Homo sapiens: one gene and its partner. The protein of the gene in region 2 interacts with the protein of the main gene of each other region in a pairwise test. Each region holds a gene or a part of one and is shown on either strand. Other genes may lie near its edges.

Region 1 (3,500 bases), on a different chromosome or scaffold from region 2:
ATCTATCAGATGAACTGATACTTAAAGAAAAACAATAATTTGCTTTCTTTTTCCATGACTATTCAATGGCCTCTTTTAGTATTTTTTTAAACATTAAAATGGCTTCAAACAATTTAACTAGACTTGATTATTGAATGAATACACAAAATCTGCTGGTTAACTTTAATTCTAAGGCAAGTCAGCTTCTAAGTCTTTTACTGTCCTACTTTTTTTCTTTCTTTTTTTTTTTGGAGACAGAGCCTTCTTGTTCTGTCGCCCAGGTTGGAGTGCAATGGCCTGATCTTGGCTCACTGCAACCTCACCTTCCCAGGTTCAAGTGATTCTCCTGCCTCAGCCTCCTGAGTAGCTGGGATTACAGGCATGCGCCACCACACTCAGCCAATTTTTATATTTTTAGTAGAGATGGGGTTTCACCATATTGGCCAGGCTGGTCTCAAACTCCTGACCTCAGGTGACCCACCCTCCTCAGCCTCCCAAAGCGCTGGGATTACAGGTGTGAGCCACCGTGCCCAGCCCTGGCCATACTTTCGTAACAAGGAAGAAGCAAGGCCGAATCCTTTCTTTTCATAAAGATGAATGCATGATAAACCAATAACTTTCATCTGTTAACTGAGCTGCATATAATTAGAGACCTATCTCAAGACATACTAGAAATTAAGAAACTACAAAATGTTATTCCCCTCTCTGCCTCTCCTATTTGTCAAAAGCAACACCATGCTCATTTATGTAGGCTTGGCACCACCTGACTCCTCCCACTCCTGAGCCTGCATTTCAAGTTCTGTAAATATAAACTCTGTACTAGCATCATTATATCTCTCTTTTCCACTCCTGCTGCTCCCCTCTTAGTTCATGCTTCCTCTCATTTGATCAGCTCATCTTTGGCAAGATTTTGCAATAATATACTAAGCTAGCTCCCTGCCCCCACATCCTAGCACTCCAGAGAGTTATTCATTCTCATCACATCAGTGATCTTTCTGAAATCAGAAATTCAACCACGTCACTTTTCAGCTTACCATTCAATGAATTTCTTCGAATGCTAAACATAGAATTGCCACACAACCAAGCAATTCCACTCCTAGGTATATATCCAAGAGAGATGAAAACATGTCCACATAAAAACTGGGGGGCTGAGCACCATGGCATGCACCTGTAATCCAAGCTACTCAGGAGGCTGAGGCAGGAGGATCACTTGAGCCCAGGAATTTGAGACCAGCCTGGGCAAAACAGACCCCATCTCAAAACAAAACAAAAATGTGTACACTTGATCACAGCAGCATTATTCATAAAATTTAAAAGCGTAAACAAACTAAATGTCCACCAACTGACAAATGGATAAACAAGATGTAGTACAAATACACCACACAACATTATTTGGTAACAAAAAAGAATGATGAACAGATAAATGCAACAGCATGGATGAATACTGAAAACACTACCTAAGTCAAAGAAGCCGATACAAAAGACTACATATTATATAACTCTTTATGTAAAATGTCCAGCATAGGAGACTCCACAGAGACAAAAAGTAAATTGGTGGTTGCCTGGGGCTAAGGTTGGGGTGAGAGTTTGGGAATAGGAGCAGCTGCATCCAGTGTTTCTTTTGGGGGAAGCTAAAAATATTCTAAAATTAGATTGTGATAATTGCACAATTTGGTGAAAAAACTAAAATTGTACACTTTAAATAGGAAAATGTATGCCATGAAATATATCTCAACAAAGTAGTTTAAAAAATCTCCACAACTTCCTACACCCTTCCACCTTTCCTGCCTCATCTTTTGTCCCTCCCCACATAAATCCTTTAACCCCAAAGGATAAAATCTCCTGCATTAACATGTGATAGCTACAAGAATGGGGTTCACCTTCCTACCCTTGCAGCTGTAGCCTGTGATCCTAAAGGAGGGATTCTGCCACCATGAGCTTCCATTGTAAAAATGGAGAAATATCTTACAAGGATATGAGATAATGATGTAAAATATAACATGCTCAGCACCGTGCCTGGCATGCGGTTAAGTGCTCAATAAGTGATGGTCATTCTCATCATTCCCAGAAGGAACCAAAGTATCCCTCTCCTTTGGGACACCTTCAAGGAGTGAAACACACTCCCCCACCTGGTCCACCTATTAAATATCTGCATATTTTCCAAAATGGGGGTCAAATGTCCCTCATCCTTTTCACATTCCTCAAGGCAGTAAGCCCCTCGAGGGTAGGGCCAGTGCCTATTCACCTGTGTGCCACCCCCTGCCAAGGCTTACCACAATACCTGGTACTAAATTGTTTCAAGAAGTACACATTAATGATTACTATTACATATATAAACATGAATATTGATTATCAGACCTACAATAGCCACGACCCACAATAAGACCCACCTACGACCCACAATAGCCAAGATCAGGGTAAATGTGTTAATCATTTTAACTCTTTTACCTCTACTCTTCAGCGACAGCCTCCAGTTTTTATTTATTTATTTGAGACCAAGTCTCACTCTGTTGCCCAGGCTGGAGTGCAGTGGCTGCATCTTAGCTCACTGCAACTTGCTACTCCCGGGTTCCAGCGATTCTCATGCCTCAGCTTCTCGAGTAGCTGGGACTACAGGTGCGTACCACCACACCTGGCTAATTTTTTGTATGTCTAGTAGAGACTGGGTTTCACCATTGTTGGCCAGGCTGGTCTCAAACTCCTGGCCTCAAGCGATCCACCCACCTCAGCCTCCCAAAGTGTTGGGACTATAGGCATGAGCCACCACACTCAGCCTCCAGTTAATAATATTTAGTAAGTACAGGCAACGTCCTAACTGCTCTAGAGATTATCTCATTTTATCCTCACTTGCAACTACCCTCTGGGGCAAGTACTATCATTTTATAGATAAGAAAACTGAGGCTGGGAGGTATTTACTGGTACATTTATTTTGAATGAAAAAAATGAGGAAAAGAAAAACAAAATGACTGTGTATGCCACTACAGTTCACTGAATTGAATACATTCTAGGGGCTCCTTGTAAATGTCCATGGCTTGCCTTTTTTCTTGCTACTAACGGAAATCACTGTTGTGCTTGACACACCTGGCTTGCCAGGACAGTCTTTTCCAGGAAACTCTCCAGCTTTGGGACCTCTCCCTCCACCATGACATCTCCTCCCTGCCTTCATCCCAGCCAGCCCTCTGATTCATTCTCATCAATGATTTTTCTGAAATCAAAAATTCAACCATGTCACTCTTCAGCTAACCATTCAATGAATTTCTTCAAATGCTAAAATACAGAGTTGCCATACAACCTGACTTCTATTAGAATAAACTAGAATTCTAAACCAATACATGGATTAGTAAGACTAGATATTCCTTACTCTGGTCTCACATTGGAGCAAAACAAAGAGAAAAGGGACACAGCCAATTTTAAAGCTATCCAAGTCACACTAGGGATTCCCAGGACCTCCGTATGAATCCAGGAAGTGCCAGAATCAGATTTTCCTCAAAGCGTCCTCTGGCAAATCCATAGTCTGAGGA
Region 2 (5,394 bases):
AGGCAGAATGTTGTGGTTGTTTTCATCTTAAATGCTAACAATATATGAATTATGTGGTGGATACACTGCCTCAAAGTGACATTTATCGAATATTTTTGTAGCTACGGGTTGAGAGTAAGGGTCTGAGGCCCCACTGGGTTCAAGTCCCCCTTCTTTATTTGTAAGCTCTTCTTTTGTAAATGGAGCAGTCACAGGGGGCTTCACTCTGATACCTAATGGAGACCGTGCCTGCAGTGCTCGGTACCTGGTATGTGGTTAAAACTGACATAACTGTCAGAGCCTCTCCCAGGCGGGCTGACTCTGGGAATCTGCCCTGCAGTCTTGGAGGGAAGGCACGTCCAGATAGGTTTGATGAGCAACTACAATTGCCAAAGTTAGTTTCTCTGACCTCCAAGATGGGAGAACTTTCTAATATTTTCTTTTAGGAAAGTTGTCCATTGCATAACTGATACACGAGTACATATCCTTTAGTACAGGATTCAGATACAGCGAGCAACAGAAAAGCCCTTCTTAACCTCCACCCTCAGTCCCAGCCCTGCCCCCAGTCCCACTGTTGGGGAGCAGTTGGAGCTCTAACCTCTCTTCTTTCGTCCTGTGCATTCATGTGTGCATGTGTGCACGTCTTCAGAAGATATAATGGTGGGCTGTGTATGTCTTCTTAATACCTTTATCACTCTGGAACTTTCTTTTTATTAATATGTTGGGGTGCGGGGAGGTCTCCATATTCAGTGATTATTGTAATTTTTATGACAGTCCAGAATAGGCATGTCGATTTTTTTTAATTTTTGATATTATAAACAGTGCTGCAATGAATGCACTTTTTCTTTTCATTCTTTCCCTCTCCTTTGCCATTTGCACTGTGTTTTCATGAAACCATCAGGTTAATCTTTATCTCAAGGAAGCCCTTCATCCCTGTCCATCCTGTTCTTCAGTCCATCCACTTAGTTTTCCTATGATTATTTTAGCAAGCAGGTGGTTAATTTCCAAGGAATGTAGTTACTTCTTTGGGATTTTTTTAAGTGATGTATTAGTTTTCTGTGTATTTTATTACTTGTTTGAGTGCACCATTACCCCCGTCTCCCGGGGTATCAGTTCATCTGCTTGCATGCTTGGTGCCTCTCTCTCCTGCTGTCAGCTTTCCTGATGTGCTGGGTATTTCCACGTGTGTGTTGGTTTTTTTTTTTTTTTAGGTACCCTAGGCATTAGTCTTTTAAGGCTGCATTCTTGCAGCCTGTCCCACATGAGATAGGAGGAGGGCAAGACCTGGATGTGCACAGGGCAGGATGGGCCCATAACTGGTCTGTGTGGTGTGTGGGTGGCAGGAACTCCCTGTTCTTTGTGGGTATGGCCATGCCTTCCCTATTCAAACGAAGCCACACACCTGTCTTTTCCTGCGAGGCGTCTTCTGCTGCTTTCTTGGAGCTGGGGAGCATCTACTCTTCCCTTGTCCTCCCGCTCCTCCCTGTTCCTCCCTCAGGTCTCTGTCGCTTCTAAGGCACTCCACCCTTGGTCTTCTCCCACCTTGCACCCCCCACACTGCTGCCTGCCTGCACAGGGGGACTGTGATTGCCCCCTTCAGTGTGAGCCTGACCTGCTTCATGCCTTTCAAGGAGAGCATTCATTGCCAAGCTACTCATGGAACATCTCCTCAGATCCTCAGCGTGCTATGACTTCATTTTCTGTAATACTGTTTTTCATGTTTCTTCCCCTTCTCTGCATTTATAGCTGTGCATATGCTTGAGGTGGAAGGCCACCACTTCCTTTTGGTTAACAACACCAATCAGCTGATGGTCATGGCTACGTGAAGGAACTCACAGTGAGGGCTCAGGAAGAGCCTGGCTAGAGCAGGCTGCATCGCAGGCCTTGGCGTTAGGTTCCCCAAATCACTGCTGGTGATCTTGTAGCTCTGTCATGAAGTCTGTCCTGCTTATTAGGATACCGAGGGTCCAAATTCATAGATTCTTAGAAGCCTGTTTAAATATGCAGAGTATCTAATTCAACCCGATTAGAAACGGGCTCAGAAAGGTGAAGGGATTTGTCCAACCACTGAGTGATGCTGCTGGGATTAGAACTCTCAAAACTAGGTGTTTCTAATCCAGAACCAGAATCCCTATCCACTACTCTAATAAGGCGTAAAAGAGGATCTGCTGTCCTGCCTAATTGGTGGGCAGGTTTGGAGTCCTGTCAGCAGCTCAGGAAAGCCTGGAGAGGCAGAGGGAGGACACAGGCTCAGTGTCAGACATGCCAATTTTACTCATCACCAATGGTTACACAAAACTTGTTTTGATCTTTGTGGCTTTTGCATTGAGAAGTTAAGCATATACAATAGGAATTAGACACAATCCCAAACCAATGAGAGACTCAAGTGAGAAGAGCTGAAGCTTTTATGCATGCCTTCCTTCCATAGAGATAAATTTACTATCCAGAGTGAACTAGAGCCTCGTGGAAAGTGAGTGCCGAGCCCCTAGCTGTGAGTGTCTCTGTCCTTCCCACATCAGACCTCCATGTCTGTGGCTGTCCCCCTACGGGGCAGAACTGCTGCTCTCTGCTTGTGTTGCTGTCGTGAGGGTTGGGAGTGGACAGGTGTGGACAGATCTCAGACCCGTTTCCCTCCTGTTATGGAAATGTTTGTGAGGCAGGTGGGACTTCAATGATTTGGTCAAGGAAAGGCAGCTTGGCAGCTGGGGAGAAGGGCTCAGGCTAGAAAGGCAAGCGTTTGTGAGGGATGATTTCCCCAAAGAAGCCAGCAGTGTGTAAGGTATTCCCCGGAGCTTGTTTCTTCTCAGAAGACTCTGGAAGCTGTGTCAGTGTCTGTTATGGAGGAATGGAGTATCAGTCCGATCAGGCTTTCATAACAAAGCACCACATACTGAACGGCTTGAACAGCCCAATGTGTCGCCTCCCAACTCTGAGCCAAAGAGACTGAGGTCAGGATGTCCCAGGGTGGCTCCTTCCAAGGGTTGGGTGGGACAATGTGCCCCCAGCATCTCCTTGGCTTGTGGGTGACCATCTCCAGCTCCACATGGCATGCTCCCTGTGTGCCTGTCTCTGGGTCCAGATCTCCTTTTCATGTAAGGACACCAGTCATGTTGGAGTAGGGCTCACCCTAAGGACTTCAATGGGGCGTAATCACTGCTGTAAAGACCCTGTCTTTAAATAAGGTCACACTCAGAGGGGTTAGGGAGTTAGGACATCAACATTTGAACTTGGGGGGACACAATTCAACCTGTAACAAATGTGTGAGTGAAGACTGGCACCTCCCCACGATGGCCTTTCTGTGATGCCATCAAGAGCACCAGGGAGCTCTCCAGATATGGAGATGGACAGATGTCTAAGGCCCCTGAAATGAGCCTGCTGTACAGATGATTCCAGAACTCTGTCAGTGTGAAGACCAAACACAATTAAGCACATTAAAATACTTACGGTAAAGTGTTTCTTTCACTTTAGATGTGCAAAAACTTAAAGAGAGAGAGACTTATGAGAAGACTCAGGGAAGAAATGTAAGATAAAGGTGTTAAGGGAGACAAACTCCACAAAATTGTAAAGTGAAGCTGCTGTGGGGAGTAGAGCCCAGACCCAGATAATATGCAGGCATGGGTCCAAGGGAGGCTTTGCACACCAGGCGGGGGAGGTGCAGGGCCATGGATGAATGGTCTTGGGAAAACGGCAAATCGTTTGGAAAAAAAAACAAAACTTTGCTCTTTATATCAAAATAAATTCCAAGCTGAACAAAGAATAAAAATATAGCATTGAAATAATGAAGCTATTAAAAGAAAACTTAGGTGAGTTTTAAAATAATTGTGAAGAGGCCTGTCTAAATGTGATAAAACATATGAATTTATATTCACACTCATCACAAGATTGATAAGCATGATTTCCTAAAATTTTAAGCAAATCCCCATAAAATGAAAAAATATACAAATAAGTGAAAAAAATGGTAAGATATATTTAATTTCAATACTTGTGGTAAAGCATCAATAGCTTTAATATGCAGCGAGTTTTTTCAAATCAATAAGAAAAAAGACACAGATGGGTGCTGACAGGGCCGTTTGGTAATATCTTTTAAAATTTAAAACACAAGTGCTTTCACTCAACAACTTCACTTTTAGGAACCTATCACACATATAAATTGACAAAAGTGGAGAAATATTCATTGCAACATTTTATTTTATAATAGCAAAAAAAAATCACTAAGGGAAGTACAGTTGATTCATATGTTGGAATCCTATGCAGTCTTCTAAAAAATGTGGAATTTATTTCATACACCAAATATAACAATGTCCAAGTTCTACTAGTGAAAAAGCAAGATGTAACATATCATTGTATTTGTTTAAAAAACTCATGCTGGGTTGGGTGCAATGACTCATGCCTGTAATTCCAGCACTTTGGGAAGCCAAGGTGGGTGGATTGCTTGAGCTCAGGAGTTTGAAGCCAGCCTGGGCAATATGGCAAAACCCCACCTCTATGACAAATACCAAAAAAAAAAACTAGCCTGGACTGGTGGTGTGCACCTGTAGTCCCAGCTACATGGGGGCGCTGAGGTGGGGGGATCACTTGAGTCCAAGAGGTCAAGGCTGCAGTGAGCTGAGATCATGCCACTGCACACCAGCCTGGGTGACAGAGCAAGACCCTGTCTCAAAAATAATAAGTGAAAAAAAAAAAAAAAACCTAAAAATCTCCCACATGCACATAATAATTTAAGTGATATTGGATTGTCGTTTACTACTTATACATGCATTTCTGCCTATACATATTCTATCCAGTGTGTACACATGTGTATGTAAATATGTAGCATGATCTGGAAGTGTAAGCACCAAATTAAGAACAGCAGCTTTGGGGGGAGGGGAATAGAATTGGTTTAGAGAAAAAGGTGAAATTAACATTTTTATTCTGCCTACTTCAGTGTGCCTGCAGTATTTACAACGATCAGGAGTGTGTACTTTTTTCAATTTAGAAAAATGATAATAATAAGGTTTGCTTGGGGGGAAAGGGTAAGTAGGATGAGACCAGGAAGAGAAGTAACTTAGAAACACATCATGCATCATGACTGCTGGCACCATTCTGTCCTCCAATGAAGAGCGAGGCTTTGAGAGGTTCAGCAGCTCACCCAAAGGTGTACAGCCATGGTCTCAAACATGCTTGCACCCTGCTGTCACTCAGGTCCTGAAGCCCAGGCCACCTCCAAGGACACTGGGGTGCTCTGGGGTGCAGCCTGCCTTCAGATGTTTCTTAAAGCCACTCCTACTCCACCCCACCCAGTGCAGGAGCCAAGATTGAGGACCACCATTTGACAGCTAGTTCATAGGATTTCATAGCACACAAACACATCTTTAAAGGCTGATGAGGTTTCCACCAAATTGGGATTTATTGGTATGCTGGGTATAATGGCAGCTG

What was found. The genes of interacting proteins can lie anywhere in the genome.
Region 1: the proteins of SYK (region 2) and MICOS10-NBL1 interact in binary tests that used the Homo sapiens proteins (3 or more experiments, as listed by UniProt).

The regions. Positions count from the first base shown.
Region 1 is NC_000001.11:19,603,479-19,606,978, reverse strand, and holds part of MICOS10-NBL1 (neuroblastoma suppressor of tumorigenicity 1 isoform a precursor), read right to left. Parts: intron 1-3,500. UniProt on the Homo sapiens protein: Possible candidate as a tumor suppressor gene of neuroblastoma. May play an important role in preventing cells from entering the final stage (G1/S) of the transformation process.
Region 2 is NC_000009.12:90,807,289-90,812,682, forward strand, and holds part of SYK (tyrosine-protein kinase SYK), read left to right. Parts: intron 1-5,394. UniProt on the Homo sapiens protein: Non-receptor tyrosine kinase which mediates signal transduction downstream of a variety of transmembrane receptors including classical immunoreceptors like the B-cell receptor (BCR).